Regions from separate parts of the Homo sapiens genome. Here region 2 is linked to region 1. Evidence: fine-mapped expression QTL. A gene starts in region 1. The other region holds a variant in brackets. All regions are shown on one strand. Distances are from middle to middle.

What was found. PIP is the estimated chance that this variant, and not a neighbour inherited with it, causes the effect.
Region 2: its variant is fine-mapped to the expression of CECR2 in esophagus muscle (GTEx, PIP above 0.99).

Annotation. Positions count from the first base shown.
Region 1 is chr22:17,367,241-17,372,613 of GRCh38, reverse strand. It overlaps CECR2 (CECR2 histone acetyl-lysine reader), which reads right to left and starts at 3,154. Exons shown (of 19, transcript NM_001290047.2): 1 at 2,705-3,154. The coding sequence starts at 2,830. RefSeq lists silencers at 2,717-2,816, 2,827-2,896.
Region 2 is chr22:17,476,888-17,482,260 of GRCh38, reverse strand. It overlaps CECR2 (CECR2 histone acetyl-lysine reader), which reads right to left. Exons shown (of 19, transcript NM_001290047.2): 2 at 4,579-4,673. Among named protein-coding and RNA genes, the nearest start is that of SLC25A18, 84 kb to the left of the region's middle. The variant A/G (reference allele first, on the strand shown) is at 2,862.

The DNA of each region.
Region 1 (5,373 bases):
TCGCTGCCACCTCCGCCTACCGGGTTCAAGCGATCATCCTGCCTCAGCCTACGGATGTAACTGGGATTACAGGAGCGCGCCACCATGCCTGGCTAACTTTTTATATTTTTAGTAGAAACGGGGTTTCATCATGTTAGCCAGTCTCGTCTCGAACTCCTGACTTCAGGTGATCGACCCACCTCGGCCTCCCAAAGTGCTGGGATTACAGGGGTGAGCCACCGAGTCGAGAAAATACATTCTTAAATCTTAATTTTTAAATCTCACATATAATCATTCCCAATAAAATTCTAATTTTTGATAACTACTAAAAAGCGTAAGTTAAAATTTCCATTAGCCATATCAAAACATACCTGAGATGGATTAGACAAAAACTGCAGGTGAGAAAAGTCACTTTGTTATCCACTGACTGAACATCTCCAAATAAAAACGAGTGTGGATAGTTCTTAAAACCTGCATGTTTGAAGCCAAATATTCATTTCTGTTGCATGTATTTCAAACAGCATGTATTTTAGCCCCAAAAAAGTGTCATTTCCAAGAAACACTGGAGTCAAAAGAGAGGACAGTCATATCAAATAGCCTTGATTATTCACCATGTAAACTACAGTGATTTTTCATGTTATACATATAAATTTGACCTCTTTAATCAGTTTACATTTCCTTTAGGAATTAAACCAGCTAATTCTCAGAAACCACAAGTTTATTGCTTATAACAGAAGACAAGTTATTTACAGGTTACTCTAAATATGCTGCGAGTACTTAAGGCAAAATGAGTTACCTCTAGCTTTTCATCAACAAAATGGGAATACATGGATTTTGAGACATAAAGTTTTTCCAACAATATTTTTAGGATGGGTCTTTAAACTCTGAACTCATAATCCCAGCACCACCTCAACTTTATCTCGCAAGGAAGAAAAGGGACTAGGTGCAAGTTTACCAGCACCCAAGATGGCCCTGTCACAGGCGGCACCTCCCACCACAGCCACCATTTTGACTGCAGGATATAATTAAACTACTCACGATTTTGTACCAACTGAAAGAAAACACAGGACATCAGAGTAACTGAGAAACATCCTTTGACCTTTAGGATTCCCAACTCTTTAGCTTCCGTGTCTCTGTTTCTCTTCTTTCGTCAATATTAACAGTTGTCTAAAGAATATTTTCATTAATAAAATTATGCTTGCTACATTCACGTTCAAACTTTGAAAACAAACGCTGTGGCGCCACGTAAAATGCCCGTTATTACCTCTTCCTAAAAAGTGGAGAAGCCCACATTTCCTCACATTGTTTTAATCAGCTTAAGGAACTAAGAATCGCCAAAAGCCAGTGAGTGGCCCTAGACTATCTGTCTACATTCCTCTTCATTCTCCCATCCCCAACCCTTTTGATCTTTTTATTTTCCTGATTTCATTAACTGCGACGAGAGCAAGTTCCCACACTTCATTCACAGAAGAAGCAACTGATATTTCAGCAAACACGACTAAATCTAAAAATAAAGGTGAGGCAAAGAGCTCTGAAATAAACGAGTTAAAATCAACCCGAAAATGGCACAAAGTAAGATCCGTGGGGCTGGGGAGGCAACAACAACGATTTGCTCTTCCAAAAGAGTGGCTCTAATTTTGATTACTGCGTCGGCGAACCCATCCGCAGAACAGAAAACAAAAACTGACCAACGCAGTTGCCATTCACCTTTGTCCAAAGGCAAAAGGTGAAAAGTCACGACACATATTGCCATAGAAGAGAAGGCAATTCAACCTGCCAACCAATCGACTAATTCTCAGCTCCTTCCAAAAATAAAAATAAAAATAGGAGAAAGGGGGCTGCCGCTGGGCTGGCCGATGCCTGGCCGCCGAGTGCGCCGCGCTCCGCAAGCTCCCGCCACCCGCCGCGCTCCAGGACCCTCGGGTTTCGGCCCAGTTATCACAAAGCCCCGGGCTGGAAAACACCTCCGGCCTGGCCAGAATGGCCAGCCCGTCCTCCGCGCTCGCCCGGGGGGATAATGGTGGCGAGATCAACTCCAAGGGCTCCCGAGCCCCGCGATAAAGAGGCTGGATATTACGGGAGGAAGGACGCTGTGGAAGAATAACGGAGTCCCAAACTTTCCTTCCACACCTCCAGAGCCCCGCGCCCAGGCCCGGTCCCCACCGGCCCGAAGTTGGCCGGAGCGCCTCCCGGGAGCTTGGGGCCTCCGGGAGCCCCTGCCACGCGCCCGCCCGCCAGAGCGGGGCTAGCCCTCCCCGCCGGCCGCGGCCGACTCCCGCCCCGGTCCGAGTTAATCCCGCGCGGGCCCCCCCCCCGCGCCCGGCCCCGCCGGAGCAGCTGGCTCGCGCCTCAATGGCACCGGGCGGCGAGCGCGCGCAGCCCTCGCGCCCACACCCAGCCCCAGCCCACCGGAGAAGTCCCGGGAGGGTCGCCGGGTCCCGCTCCCGCTCCCTCTCCCACAAAAGCACGGGCCCGCCCCGCCCTCGCGGTGCCTGCTCCTCCACCCCAGGATCCGGCGTCCCCGGCCCGACGCCCCTCGGCACCCGGGCACAGCCCGGCGGCCCCCGCCCGCCCTCCTGCCCTTTTGCGCCCTCCTCCTGGCCCCCGACTCCCGGCCGAAGTCCCTCGGGCCCCGGCCCCTCTGCGCGACGGCCCGGGACACCCCGCGCGGGGCAGGGGGAGCAGGGGGCGCAGCGCGCCGCCTCCCGCCCGCGCGGCCACTCACCTCGATCTCGAAGTCGGGCAGGCGGAACGCGGTGCGAAAGAGCGAGCAGAAGTGCGCGATGGCCGGGACCTCCCACCAGGAGCGGAGCTCGCCCAGCCCGGCCGCGCCGCCCTCCTCTGGGCACATCTCCCCGCTGCGGCACAGGCGGCGGCCCCTCGCTGCCCGCGCTCTGCCCGCCGACCTGGGACTCCCGCCGCGGCAGCGCCGCAGCCTCCGCGCGGTCCTCGGCGGGGGCGGCGGGGCGCTCCTCCCGCTGCTGCCGCCGCTCGGCGAGTGCAGGAGCCGAGGGCGGGCGCCGGGCGGGGGGCGGCGGCGCGGGGGCCCGAACTACTGAGGCGGCTGCGGCTGCGGCTGCCCGCGGGGTCCGCGCGCTCGCCCCATCCCGCGGCTGCGGCGGCGGCCGCCCCCAGTCCCCTACAATATAATCGAGTCCCCGCCGGAGAAACAGATGGGGCTAGGGGCGGAGGGGCCGGACGCGGGGCCTGGGGGAGGGGCCGCCCACGAGGAGGGGGCGGGGCTGCCCGCGCCACAACAACAACCCCCGCCCCCGCCCCACCCCCGCCCGGACAGCTGCACCGCCAGGGAGGGGGAGGGGCGGGGCGCGCGCCCCCGGGCCCAGATCCGCAGGACCCAGGGGGCGCGGGCCGCACCCCCGAGAACTCTCACGAGGCGCCCTCCGCCCTCCAGGACTTTGGGACTGGGGAGTTGAAGCACTTTCCCAAGGGAGGACGGCCAGGAGCTCTCCCACCCCCACTTGGCCTGAGTGGTCGCGTCCTTTTAAAGGGCCCGCGGGGTGGTCCTTTCGGTCGGGCTAGAGACAGAAACGTGCACGTGTGGGAGTTCAGTTATTATTGATGCCGAGGGCAGAGCCGGAGCAGGAGCGGGCTGTCCACCCTAGAAATATGAAGCCTAGAGAAGTGAAGTGCTTTCCACCTGTTTCTTAACGCTTTTATTCCAGCCGAGAACGGCGCCCAAGGAGCTCTGAAGTGGCTTTTTTCTCCGAGGGAAGAAGGCGGTGGGGCTGATTGAGCTGGAACGAAGTAGGATGGAGGCTGGAGAGCGGCGGGAAGGGTGGGGTAGGGGGAGGCACCAATCAGCAGCCAAGCGGGAAGAGCGATCCCCAACCCCAGGGAATGGACACGTGTGACCGCCCCGGAGAAGACGGGCTCGGAACCCTGCTACTGCCCGGCCGCTGAAAGAGCTGCCTGGAAGAGTGAGCACAATGTGCTTGGAAGGCGGGGGGATGGGGCAGAGGAGATCGGGAAGCCGGGGACTGTGCTCGGAGGGGAGGAGACCCCCACGCCCCGGCGGAGGGATTGAATGTGCTACGGCCGAAGGGTGTTGGAGTGTGTGCTTTAGAAATGCTAACTGCTGTAGCGCGGTGGAGTACTGCTAAATCCTAAGAAAAAAAATCACCCCAGAAACAGGCTAGAAGTTTGGAAAAACTCCATTGAATGCTCAGATATTTGTATTGGTCGTCGCACTTGCATCCTGCTGGTCTCAGAGGGCCGCCTCTGAGTTCGGTGGTCCACCTTTCAGATAGGAAACACTGCTCCTGGTGCGTCCCCCAAATTAATCAACTATTTATTGAGTGACAGGCACAATCACAAAGTGTACAAGGGTTAAACTCAAAGATCCTCTTCTACCTTTAAGTAGTGTACAATCTGGAGATAATTTATATGATAGATTTTGGAATGGGCTGTCTGGATAATTACCCCTCCACTCTCCCTCACTTTATTATGATAATAACTTGTTGTATTTTTTAAGGCAGCATTCAGAAACATAATTTTAAATGGTTAGAGTATATTCACGTGCATCTTCTGTGAATCTAGTAATCTCAAAATACATCATCTTCTAACAAGGGTCTCCTCCGCCCCCCACCACTCTCTCCTGGCACAGAAAAACAACCCAAAGTTCTGCTCTTTCATTCCCTGGAACTATTTGATGATTTAAAGTGCATCCTCAAATTCTACCATGCTTTTTATTTAATGTTTGGCAAAAATGAGCTCACATGTGACTGCTCCCAAAAAGCCAAGCCTACGTTTGTGTGTGTTGGTGAAGCACAGCTACCCCGTGAGTATTGCATTAGCAAGGGAGATGGGAGAGGGACACAGGCCACCCCGGAATTGTCACGTAACCTGAACGAGGTGCTTTCTGGACTTGCTTCTCCGTCTTTTATTTCCTCACAGTTTGACTTTGCACACTTTTTCCTCTGTGTGAGTTGGCCGGGCGCGGTGGCTTACGCCTGTAATCCCAGCACTTTGGGAGGCCGAGGCGGGTGGTTCACCTTAGGTCAGGAGTTCGAGACCAGCCTGGCCAACATTGTGAAACCTCGTCTCTACTAAAAATACATAAAATTAGATGGGTGTGGTGGCAGGCGCCCGTAGTCCCAGCTACTCGGGAGACTGAGGCAGGAGAATCGCCTGAACTCGGGAGGCAGAGATTGCAATGAGCCGAGATCTCGCCATTGCACTCCAGCCTGAGCAGTAAGAGTGAGACTCCGTCTCAAAAAATAAAAATTAAAAAAAAAAAGTGTTACTGCGTTTCCCTGCCTTTATCTTTTGTCATCGTTTAAGCTTCTTCCCTCGCCTCTCAGTTGTCACCACTAGCCAGCCTAGTAATATTAGTGCCTAGGATATTAATGACACCAGCAAGCAGAGGGATGAGAT
Region 2 (5,373 bases), 110 kb before region 1:
AGTAGAGACGGGGTTTCACCATGTTAGCCAGGATGGTCTCGATCTTCTGACCTTGTGATCCACCTGCCTCAGCCTCCCAAAGTGCTGGGATTGCAGGCGTGAGTCACCATGCCACGCCCTTTTTTTTTTTTTTTTTTTTTTTTTTGGAGACAGAGTCTCGATCTGTCACCCAGGCTGGAGAGCAGTGGCGTGATCTCGGCTTCCTGCAAGCTCCGCCTCCCAGGTTCATGCCATTCTCCTGCCTCAGTCTCCCGAGTAGCTGGGACTACAGGTGCCGCCACCACGCCCGGCTACTTTTTTGTATCTTTAGTAGAGATGGGGTTTCACTGTGTTAGCCAGGATGGTCTTGATCTCCTGACCTGGTGATCCGCCCGCCTCGGCCTCCCAAAGTGCTAGGATTACAGGCGTGAGCCACCACGCCTGGCCTGTAAGTGCTAGGTCTTTATATGACTGGTAGCGCACTAGGTTTGTTTACACCAGCATCACCATAACCACATGAGTAATGCATGTGCAAGCATGTTACAAGGGCAATAATATCTCTAGGGGATAAAAATTTTTGTGTCTATCACAACCTCGTGTGACCACTGTCGTACATGAGGTCTGCCACTGAACAAAATGACAGTATGTGATGCATGCCTGTATTGACTATCTGGCCCTTTACAAAAAACATTTGCTGGCCCCTGTTCTAAAACATGCAAACCACAACGGAAAAGGATACAGACACTTGGTTGAGTCAAAATCTGTTTTCTGCTGAGCCTTTGGAGGAACTAGGCATAGTGTTTCATGATGATTACTCTCACTCATCATTTCGTTTAATCCTCATAATAACTTTACTGAATATTGTCACTAATTCCATTTTATAGATGAGGCGAATTATGCACAACTAAATGAAGTTACTTTTTTTTTTTTTTTTTTTTTGAGACAGAGTCTCGCTCTGTCACCCAGGCTGGAGTGCAATGACACGATCTTGGCTCACTGCAACCTCCACCTCCCGGGTTCACGCCATTCTCATGCCTCAGCCTCCCAAGTAGCTGGGACTACAGGCGCCCACCACCACGCCCGGCTAATTTTTTGTATTTTTAGTAGAGACGGGGTTTCACCGTGTTAGCCAGGATGGTCTTGATTTCCTGACCTCGTGATCTGCCCGCCTCCACCTCCCAAAGTGCTGGGATTACAGGCGTGAGGCACCGTGCCCGGCCTTTTTTTTTTTTAAAAAAAAAAGAGATGGAGTCTCACTCTTTCGCCCACGCTGGAGTGCAATGGTGCGATCTTGGCTCACTGCAACCTCCGCCTCCCGGGTTGAAGCAATTCTCCCATCTCAGCCTCCTGAGTAGCTGGGACTACAGGCGTGCACCACCACGCCTGGCTAATTTTTGTATTTTTAGTAGAGACCGGGTTTCATCACATTGGCCAGACTGCTCTTGAACTCCCGACCTCAAGTGATCTGCCCGTCTCGGCCTCCCAAAGTGCTGAGATTATAGGCATGAGCCACTGCGCCCGGCCGAAATTAAGTAACTTTTTAAGCTGCATAGAACAGTTTAGTCTTGGAGGCATAACAGGTAAACATTTACTTATCCAAATTTCTCTTTCTTTAGAATGAGATCAAAGTAGAACTTCAGACAAGAACGAGTGTACATTCACAGTAACCGCATGTGGAACCATCATTTTAGGCAATTCCCTTCAGGGAAAAAAGTAAAGTAGATTGTAGTGTTCTTTCTTGTCCAGGTTCTCTGTTACACAGGTGTGTTCAGTTTGTGAAAATTCATTGAGCTTTAGAATTAGGAAATGAGCACTTTTCTCTGTGTGTGTGTGTGTGTGTGTGTGTGTGTGTGTGTGTGTGTATTATACATGAGTAGTAAGTTTCAAGATGACTGCTGTCACTGGTACCTTGATCACAGACCTGTAAGCTAACTCGAGCTAAACACACCAGTAGTGGTTTGTCCAGGTTCCTGACCCACAGAAACTGTAAGATTACACTTTTTGTGGTTTTAAGTTGCTAAGTTTTAGGGTAATTTGTTACTTAACAATGGATAATACAGCTTGAAGCAGACATCAGTATTAACACTGAAAAAAGAGATAGATAATAATCCTAGAGAGTCAAAAGAATACTAACTCAAGAAAAAAATCAAGGCCAATAAACTCTGCAAATTAAAGACAGATACAGGGATACGGTATTCTATTATTTAATAAATACTTGTAGGGGCAAGGCACAGTGGCTCACACCTGTAATCCCAGCACTTTGAGAGGCCAAGGCAGCAGGATCGCTTGAGACCAGGAGTTCAAGACCAGCCAGGGAACACAGACCTTGTCTCTACAAAAAATTGTTAAAAATCAGCTGGGGATGGTGGCACAGTCCTGTCCTGAGCTACTCAGGAGGCTGAGGTGGGAAGACTGCTAGAGCCCAGGTTGAGGCTACAGTGAGACAGGATCCTGCCACTGCACTCCAGCCTGGGTGAAACAGCAAGACCCTGTCCCAAAAAAAAAAAAAAAAAAAAGAAAGACCACATTGTAGGGATGTCAATTTTGCCCACATTTCTTCATAGGTTTATTTGATTCTAGTTAGAATGATTAGATAAGGGGAGTTCTTAAAGAACAGGACATAACTTTGTAACCACTATCTGGAAGAACAAACAAGCAGAATTAGTTAAGATCAATTTTAAACAGAAGGACAAATTAGAGGATGAACTCAGCCACGGAGGAATATCCTATGAGAGAAAACAGCCCATATGTGAAGGCTCAGTTCACAAGTCACTTTCTTACCCCAGGTTGTATGCTCTGTTAATATGTTGTATTTTTATTTCTAAGCACTTACTGTTGTAATTACATAACTGGCAACTATATAATCATTACTGTAATGATTC[A/G]TGGACCTCCCTGTCACAACTGTGAACTCTAAGAGATCTGGTGAGTGTTTGTGCTGCCAGTACCTACTAGTCTGTGTACAGAGGGCTCACAAGGATCATCCAAGCAGACACTCTCACGCACTGATCATTTAAGGCTAAAATACAACCACCTCTGTGACGGGAAACCTGGCAAAAGCCTTTAAGCCTTGCTTAAAATGAAGATCTTAAATGGGCATATCTTTTGACTGAGTGATGTACTTCCAGGAACCTGGTGAATTTTGTACAAAGCTATGCATTATATATGTTTATAACAGCTAAAAGCTAGACATAACTTGTCAGCTACCAGACTGGATTATTTGACAATGACATTTAGAAAATGTGGTTATAAGAAAACTGATTGCTATAATGAAAAAAAATTCCAGGTTATGAAAATGTGGAATTAAACACAAGGTACGAATACAACAGTGCTTAAAAATTACAAACTCCCAAGTCTACATCCTAAATAGAGAACGGAAGAAAATATTCTAAGGTATATTTTATGTTTATTTTTATTTACAAATACAACCTGGGTATTCTAGGGGGAAAAGTCATTATACTTAGTGCACGAGCAATAACTCTCCCCTAGAGAATGCAGACTTCCACCCTGAGAAAAACAGCATTTACATCTCCTTCTTACCTTGTCTACAACTTTATTGCACATTAACAACAAGCATCGTTTCCCAGCCCTAACAGACTGAATTCGTTAGAACAAAAATATCTGATACTTGGCCAGGCGCGGTGGCTCACGCCTGTAATCCCAGCACTTTGTGAGGTCGAGGCGGGCAGATCACGAGGTCGGGAGATCGAGACCATCCTGGCTAACACGGTGAAACCCCATTTCCACTAAAAATACAAAAAATTAGCCGGGCGTGGTGGCGAGTGCCTGTAGTCCCAGCTACTCGAGAGGCTGAGGCAGGAGAATGGCGTGAACCTGGGAGGTGAAGCTTGCAGTGAGCCGGGATTGCGCCACTGCACTCCAGCCTGGGCGACAGAGTGAGACTCCGTCTCAAAAAAAAAAAAAAAAAAAAATTTGATACCATTTTACCTATCTGAGAAAGGCAAACCATAACAACTCAAACCCCCTACATGGCATCAGAAGGCAAGAGACCAGGAAACCCATTGCATCTCACCTTTTTGTGAGTTTGCCCTGTAGTTCTGTCCTATATAGACACATAGCAAAGAAACGTGTATTAAGTAAAGATCAAAACAAGAGGTCCTATCAGGACTCTCCTTTATTTGTCTCCATACATCACATTTTGCTCAATGTCTCTACACATCTCTCTTTTTTTTTTATTACATCAGTGCTGCTGGCTATGTAAACAACAGAAGATACTCAAATGACAGAAAGGTAATAAAAACTAGTTTTGATTTCTTAGGCAATACTTTACCAATACTGCAAAATCAGAAAATGGCAAATATAAGAAGAAATTCTACACTAAAATATGTTAGCTGGGGTATCCAAGAGTAAGTGATATGGATTTGTGAGAATGAAATAAACTCAAAGATTATGATGGAATAAAAACCCAACTGCAGAATAAGCCAAACACAGCCTGGAAATTTACGTGTACGTCCTCCATCTACAGTGTCCCGTGATGCCTAATGATCGGTTCTGGTTTGTCACAGGAGACAGGAAACATCACTATGGTTGGTTAATTAGTTCTTGGCGCAAGAAATGCTTAGAAAGATCAGAATTACTCACGTGATATCTCTTCGTTGATAGCAGCCCTGAAGCAGGCAGGCAATCAGGTCACTGATAAACTCCACGTCATCTCTGTGAAGAGCGGCTTCTAACTCCTGAGGGAGGGAGAGAGGGAAGTTGAGAAATCAAACAGAGATTTCTTAAAATACACACCCCTTCCTACCGCCAGCACAAGCCCCAAGAACTGAATGGTCCCAGCAGCGGAAGGACTTGCCAGAGATCAGCTCTGCCCTTCCTTCTGGCTACTGTGAGAAGAGCAACCGGATTCCGCGTTTTCTTTTTCCCAGGGTTTTATTTCTCTCACTACTCCCTCCCCAACCCCATTCCTCTTACCGGCACATGAGAAGAAACACACATAACTCTTTTTGATAAATCAATGCTAGCTGCATAATTAAAGAGCTTAACTCTTTGATTATATATAATCGAGTATAAATACAAATGTGCTGTACTGCTATTTTAATCGCAAAAGAGAGGAAAGGAGTGCTCATGTAATTGTTTATGAAACATTTGTCATTTACTCAACCTTCTCAAGAGATAAACCATCTGCAACAGCTTTAAAGAACCACTGTATTTTGAATGGCATTTGTTAGTAAGTGATAATGACAATTTTTATTTTGGGATGCCACACCTACATGGCTGATGAAAGGTGATTGCGAGATCCAAGGCTAATCTTACATCATCTAAACAGAATGAGGTAACGTCTCTGTGAATGTCTTTGCTTTCCTTGGGGTTCAGCTTGCCTCGACACGGTATTCCAACAAGCAATTGTTTGGAAAGGGACCACTGGACAAAAAG